Homo sapiens: one gene and its partner. The protein of the gene in region 2 purifies or fractionates together with the protein of the main gene of each other region. This does not show direct contact. Each region holds a gene or a part of one and is shown on either strand. Other genes may lie near its edges.

The links. The genes of interacting proteins can lie anywhere in the genome.
Region 1: the proteins of RABL6 (region 2) and PPP4R3A fractionate together in Homo sapiens (co-fractionation; one large-scale study listed by BioGRID). This does not show direct contact.

What each region holds. Positions count from the first base shown.
Region 1 is NC_000014.9:91,500,311-91,503,810, reverse strand, and holds part of PPP4R3A (serine/threonine-protein phosphatase 4 regulatory subunit 3A), read left to right. Parts: intron 1-3,500. UniProt on the Homo sapiens protein: Regulatory subunit of serine/threonine-protein phosphatase 4. May regulate the activity of PPP4C at centrosomal microtubule organizing centers.
Region 2 is NC_000009.12:136,835,448-136,838,947, reverse strand, and holds part of RABL6 (rab-like protein 6), read right to left. Parts: intron 3,207-3,500; coding exon 3,103-3,206; intron 1,603-3,102; coding exon 1,286-1,602; intron 1,087-1,285; coding exon 933-1,086; intron 40-932; coding exon 1-39. UniProt on the Homo sapiens protein: May enhance cellular proliferation. May reduce growth inhibitory activity of CDKN2A.

The sequences.
Region 1 (3,500 bases), on a different chromosome or scaffold from region 2:
TAAGGATAATAATTTCATACCTTGCTTATGCTCTCCCTTTGTGGTGAAATCATTATACTACTTTTCTTTCTTTTGTTTTTTCTTCAACTTTTATTTTAAATTCCCGGGTACGTGTGCAGGTTTGTTACATAGGTAAATGTGTGCCATGGTGGTTTGCTGCACAGATCAACCCATCACCTAGGTATTAAGCCCAGCATCCATTAGCTATTCTTCCTGATACTCTCTCTCCCTCTGCCCCTTTGTACTACTTTTCACCATTATGATTTTTACCATATCCACCTGCCAGTTTTACAGTTGATAAATGCAAGGCTGGGGAACAAAGTGAGACCCCCCATCTCTACAAAATAAAAATTTCTAAATTAGCCATGTGTGGTGTTAAACACCTGTAGTCCCGGCTGCTTGGGGCTGAGGCAGGAGGATTGCTTGAGCCCAGAGGTCGAGGCTACAGTGAGCTGTGACTGAGCCACTACTCCAGCCTGGCTGATGAAGCAAGACCCTGTCTCAGAAAAAAAAAAAATGTAGCTCGGGCACAGTGGCCCACATCTGTAATCCTAGCACTTTGGGAAGCCAAGGTGGGGGAGGATTGCTCAAGGCCAGAAGTTCGATACCTGCCTGGGCAACATAGCAAGACCCTGTCTCCACAAAAAGTTTAGAAAATTAGCTGGGCATGTGGCACATACTTGTAGTCTTAGCTACTCAGGAGGCTGAAGCCAGAGAATTGCTTGAGCCCAGGAGTTTGAGGCTGCCATGAACTTTGGTCATGCTACTGCACTCCAGCCTGGGTGACAGAATGAGACCCTATTTCTAAAAACAAAAAATTTAAAAAAGAAAGAAATGTAAGGGAGTTGGAATTCCTCCACACACTGAAGAGTGTCTTTGGCCATAATCATATTTGTGCTCCTTATTACGAAGTACTTGCCAAGGCATCCAGAATAGTGTGCTTACATTGAGTTTTTACCTTGAATTTTATAAAGTATTCTTTACATTTCAAAATAGTTTTATCTGTTCTCTGACTCATATCTTAGAGTTAAACAGGTTAAATTCTCACTGTTACTTGAGGCATGAAGAAAATGAGACATGGAGAAATGTTTTTGTTCAAGGCAGCACTGCTAGCGAATGGTAAAACTGGGATTCTGTGCTGTTTCTGCCTCTTGATAGAACTCCATGTTCATTGTAGGTGGGTCTGCCTCTATCCCTACTGTGATTAGAAAAGGAGGTCAGAACACTTAGGGTGGAAAAGCTTTTGGGGGTAAGAGCTGTGAGAGAAATGAACAGATCAGTCAGTAGTATAGAATCTTGTATATGCCAAGCATTCTGTATATTTATCAAGAAGAGCTCAGTGTCGGTACAAGGGGAAGTATTTCACTTTGAAAAGTTTGTTTATTTAGAGACAAGGTCTTGCTGTCACCCAGGCTGGAGTGCAGTGCCACGATCATAGCTCACTGCAGCCTCAAACTCTTAGGCTCAAGTAATCCTCCTACCTTAGCCTCCCAAGTAGCTGGGACTGTAGACACATGCCACCAGGCCCAGCTGATTTATTTTTAAATTTTTTCAGGGGAGGTGGGATCTTACTGTGTTGCCCAGACTAGTCTTGAATTTCCTGCCTCAAGCAATGCTCCTACCTCACCCTCCTGAGTAGCCAGGATTATAGCTGTGAGCTACCACACCTGGCCCATTTTAGTTTTTAAATGCCACTATGTAATGAGGCATTTAAATTTTTTTCCGAAAAGTCAGGAAAGAAGGACTTGGAGCACATACCTGTTACGGGTTTAAAGCATACTTTAGTCTTGGCCGGGTGCGGTGGCTCACGCCTGTAGTCCCAGCACTTTGGGAGGCCGAGATGGGCAGATCACGAGGTCAAGAGATCGAGACCATCCTGGCTAACATGGTGAAACCCCATCTCTACTAAAAATACCAAAAAAAAAAAAAAAAAAAAAAATTAGCCGGGCTTGGTGGCGGGAGCATGTAGTCCTAGCTACTCAGGAGGCTGAGGCAGGAGAATGGCGTGAACCTGGGAGGCGGAGCTTGCAGTGAGCCAAGATCGCGCCACTGCACTTCAGCCTGGGTGACAGAGCGAGATTCCGTCTCAAAAAAAAAAAAAAGCACACTTTAGTCTCCCACCTACATGAGATTTTGGGCCCCATTGACTTTTCTTTTTTTGAGGCGGGATCTCACTCTTTTGTCCAGGCTGGAGTGCAGTGATCAGGGCTTACTGCAGCCTTGACCACCAGACTCAGGTAATCCTCTCACCTCAGTGTCCCAAGTAGCTGGGACCACAGGTGTACACCACCATACCTGGCTAGTTTTTTCTGTTATTTTTGTAGAGATGGGGTCACCTTATGTTGCCCAGGCTGGCATTAACTCATTTTTGATGGTGCATTCTCTCTACTAATGAAGCATAGTACATAAGTCCCTGCCTTAAGCCTTGAATATTGATAAGGACAATATACTCTAGAAGCTGATGGGTTGAGCTGCTTGCTTAGGAGTGACAAGGGTGTAGCTCTTCTTTCTGAAATCCTTCAGTATTTATCCAAATCAGGGCTGTGGTGAAGACCAAAGTTACTTAAACCCAAACCCAAACACTCCCATATTACTTCCCTGCTACCTGAGTCTAGTTGGTTGATAGTGAAGATAAAACCATAAAAATTACAGGAATTCTCTATACTATCTCGTTTCTTCAGTGAGAGGAAGTTAAATCTTCTAAACAAGTGAATTTTCCAGATGAATAAAAGCTGTGTACCAGAAGGTGTTTTTTGGGTTTTTTTGTTTTTAAATTTTAGAGACAGGGTCTTGGTCTTTCACCCAGGCTGGAGCGCAGTGGTGTGATCATAGCTCATTGCAGCATCAACATTCTGGGTTCAAGCAGTCGTCCTGCCTCAGCTTCCCAAGTAGCTGGTACTACAGGCACATACCACCATGTCCAGCTAATTTTTGCATTTTTTGTAGAGACAGGGTTTGCCATGTTGCCCGGGCTGGTCTTGAGCTGGTCTCCAATTCTTGGCCTCCAGTGATCCACCCACCTCAGCTTTCCAAAGTGCTGGGATTACAGTAATGAGCCACCATGCCTGGCCTACCATAAGTTTTAAAAGTCAGTAATTTTTTTATGGAATGTTGACTAAATGTGTACTGGAATGTTTTTCCTAAACAGTAAATGAATATATTGGTTAACCTCTTATTCGTAATGTGTTTATGGGTCATTATTAATGCTTGGTGTTTATGGGTCATTATTAATACTCGTTTTCCTGCTATACAACAGTACAGTGTTACCAGTGAAATGACTGTATGATGATGCCCTAAAAAAACAAGTATTGAGGCCAGGCGCGGTGGCTCAGCTTGTAATCCCAAGCACTTTGGGAAGCCAAGGCAGGCAGATCATGAGGTCAGGAGATCTAGAACATCTTGGCCAATATGGTGAAACCCCGTCTCTATTAAAAATACAAAAATTAGCTGGGCGTGGTGGTGTGCGCCTGTAGTCCCAGCCACTCTGGAGGCTGAGTCAG
Region 2 (3,500 bases):
CCTGCCACCATCGGGTTGCCGCCCAGGGCCTCCCCATCACTGCAAAGCAGGGGGCAAAGCGGTCAAGGGCCACGGGGTAGGGATGGCTGGCCGGGCTCACGGGCCTTGGTTCTAGGCGCCCTGGTACCCAGCACACCCTGGCCGTGGGGCCACCCCACCCCAGGTGCTGTGTTGTGGAGAGGCCCCCTCATGGTCACAGGGCTTCTGAGCAGGAAGGGGTCGGGGGCACAAGGTTGGACACAGTGCTGCCCTGCGGCCGCTCAGTGGGTGAAGGATGTGGAGCCGCACAAGTGGGCGCTCGTGGAGGAGGCGGGCCCAGCTCAGGGCCACGGGGCTTTCTGTCCTTTGTGTATTTCTGGAGGAAGCCGCTGCCCCACAGCAATGGGTGAGGCTGAGGTGCTGAGGCCACTGTGGGTGGAGCTTGTCCAGGGCTGTCCTGGGACCAAATGCAGGGCTTTGCTGCAGGCAAAATTTGGGGCAGCTTGGCAGACAGAGTGGTGGGAGGGGCTGGCAGATGGCTGGGGAGGCGGCTCTAGCTCCCAGCTCTAGGACCTGCAGGAAGCCGCCCCTGTCTCTGCAGCACCTGGATCCTGGCCCTGTGGAGACCACATCTGGTGGCCTGAACCTCCCATATGACCTGCAGTGGCCTCTCCAATGGCTTCCATGTGGCATCTGCCCACAGAAGACCCCAAGGTGCCCCTGTCCTCTCCAGGGTGTGGGCAGAGCAGGTGGCCAGGCCTTTCTGATGTCTGGAAGCCCCGTCCAAGCCCTTCCCTCGTCTGCTCCAGCCACAGAGCTGCTCTGTCCTCAGCCAACAGTGACCAGCCGGCGGGGGGCCCCTTCTGCGCCCCTAGAAAGCCAGCCCCACCTGCTGCTCGGGCACCCTGGAGGCTGGGGGGCAATGGGAGAGGAGGCCCAGGCCCACCCCTCACCTGTCGCTGTCCTGCTGGGCAGCCTTGGCCCCCACCTTCTTCTCGTCCCTGGCGGGGGTTGTGTCTTCCAGGAAGCTGCGGTCCAGGCGGTCGTCAGGAACAAAGTCCTCCACACTCTGGACCGTTGCTGGGCCCTCTGCGGCCGGGACTGGCTCTGTGAACAGTGATGCCGGGTCCTCTTCACTCGGCACCAGAACCCTCACTGCACCCAACCCCAAGCCAGGCCCACCCGGGATGTGCCCACGGGACTGGGACAAGCAGGAAGAAGCGTGGAGCGCTCCGAAATCCAGGACCCCACCTGTGAGGGCCTGGGGGTCTGGGACCAGTTTGGGAGGGGCAGCTCCAGGGCCTACCTGGAGGTGGAGGGGCTGCCTCGGTGGCAGGTGACGTCCCAAACAGCCTAGAGATGATGCTGCGCCGTGGGGCGGGGGCTGAGGGGCACGCAGGTGGGGGCAGGGCCTCTGAGGGTGGTACAGGGGGCACAGAGGATGGTGGGGCGGCATTGAGGGGCAGCTGTGGGGCGGGCTGGGGTGTGCCGGGGCTGGAGCTCCCCGTGGACACAGCGCCTGCAGGCACCACTGGTGACTGGGAGCCCGGGGATGGGCTCTGCCCGTTGGCCGCCAGTGGGGACGCATGGCCACGGCTGCGAGCCTCCATCATCTCCAGGAAGCTGAAAGGCAGAAGGCGGGTGAGAAGCCTGGCTCCCCTGCCTCTCCCTGAGGCCCTCAGGTGACAGGGGGCTCTCTGCTGCTGCTGCTGGGGCTGGGAAGAGCCACTGTGTTCTGGGCCACCCGCCCCACAGAGGCCATCATCCCCATCCACTTCCAAGGGCAGCAGTGCCAGCCAGGCACGGTGGCTCATGCCTGTAATCCCAGCACTGTAGGAGGCCAAGGCAGGCAGATCACGAGGTCAGGAGGTGGAGACCGTCCTGGCTAACGCAGTGAAACCCCGTCTCTACTAAAAATACAAAAAAAATTAGCCGGGTGTGGTGGCGGGTGCCTGTAGCCCCAGCTACTTGGGAGGCTGAGGCAGGAGAATGGCGTGAACCCGGGAGGCGGAGCTTGCGGTGAGCCGAGATCACACCACTGCGCTCCAGCCTGGGCGACAGAGCGAGACTCCATCTCAGAAAAAGAAAGAGCAGCAGTGCCAAAGGGTGGGGACAGCAGGCACCAGCGTACATGTGTCCAGCTCCCCTGAAAGTCACTTCGGATCTGTTCTGAGGCACAGCTGTTGGGGGCTCCATGCAGAGGTGGCCAGATGGCAGCAACTGGACCTTCCCGTGAGCGGGGGTTTCTGGGAAGAGGAGGGGGCTGGGGCTTGGTGGAGCACGTGCGGCCATCGCAGCATCCAGCTGACCCAACTCTCAGGCCCAGGAAATGCCAGGATTGGTTCAACAGAGAAGCGCCCATGCGGGGGGCTCCATTCTGGGGCTGGCCTGGCAGCTGGAAGCCACGGGTCCCTCTCCAGGCATCAAACTGCCTTCCCTCTCGGTCTCTTGCTGTGTCTGAGCCAACAGCCAGATCCAAGGTGACCCACAGGGCTCTCCTTCTGGAAACAGAGACCTCCTGGGGGGCCTCAGGAGGGCCACTGATTCCGTGGTCCCTGCCTGGGTCCCAGGGGAGGCACCAAGCCCCTAGCTGTACAGGAGCCTGAGGCAGAGAACGGGCCAGCTGTCCCACTGGCCGCAACCCCGGGGCTATGCACTGCCCAGGCCCACTCAGGAGGATGCTCTGAGCCGCCCTCTGCTATCGAGGACCAGAGACCTCCATGTCCTGGCCTGTATGCCTCTTCAACACAGGGAGCTTCCCAAAGTCAAGCAGCTCCCCAGAAAGCACACCCCATGCTGGCATCAATCTGGGAGGCCAAGCCCCTGATGGGCAGGCAGCCCCAGCAGCACTCCATGAGCACCAGCACCTGGCCACGGTCAGCGGTACTCAGAGTGGCAGGCACAGCATGACCTGTATGAGGAGTCCACGCCAGGGGTGACTGTGGGGGGGCTGCTGGGGGCAGTGCAAACCTGAGTCCTCCTCCACCCGTGCCCAAAGGTGACTAATTTACCCCAAACAGGGGACACTCCCCTCTGCTGTCTCCTTGGTGCAGCCCATGGCCCTGCACCACGGCCACGCCCGCAGCCCCCACACCGCCCGCACGGGCGGGTCCGGCCACATACATGCCGTAGTTCTGGTCCTCCGTCTCCTGCTGCACCGACAGCTCCTCCAGCGTGGCGTCCATGTCCAGCTGGTTCGTCTCCAGCTGCCGCAACAGCGTCTCCCTCTGCAGAAAGGGAGCACGCAGGCCTGAGCAGGGCTCCTTCCTGCTGCGAGTGCCCCAGCCCCACAGCCCCTGAATGCACAGGGGACGCCTCCTGCTGCCAAAACCAGGAGATGCTGCAGGGCTGGCTGCTCAGCAACTCATGGAGCTCTGCGCTGGGCCCCACTTGAACCACAGAAGCCCAGAGGATTCCTCTGCGGTGGCCGGCACGACACCTACACACTGCCAGCATGGCTTGGGGGACAGCTGTCAGTCACAGGCATAAACCTCAACAGCAAGCACCCCCACCCACACACG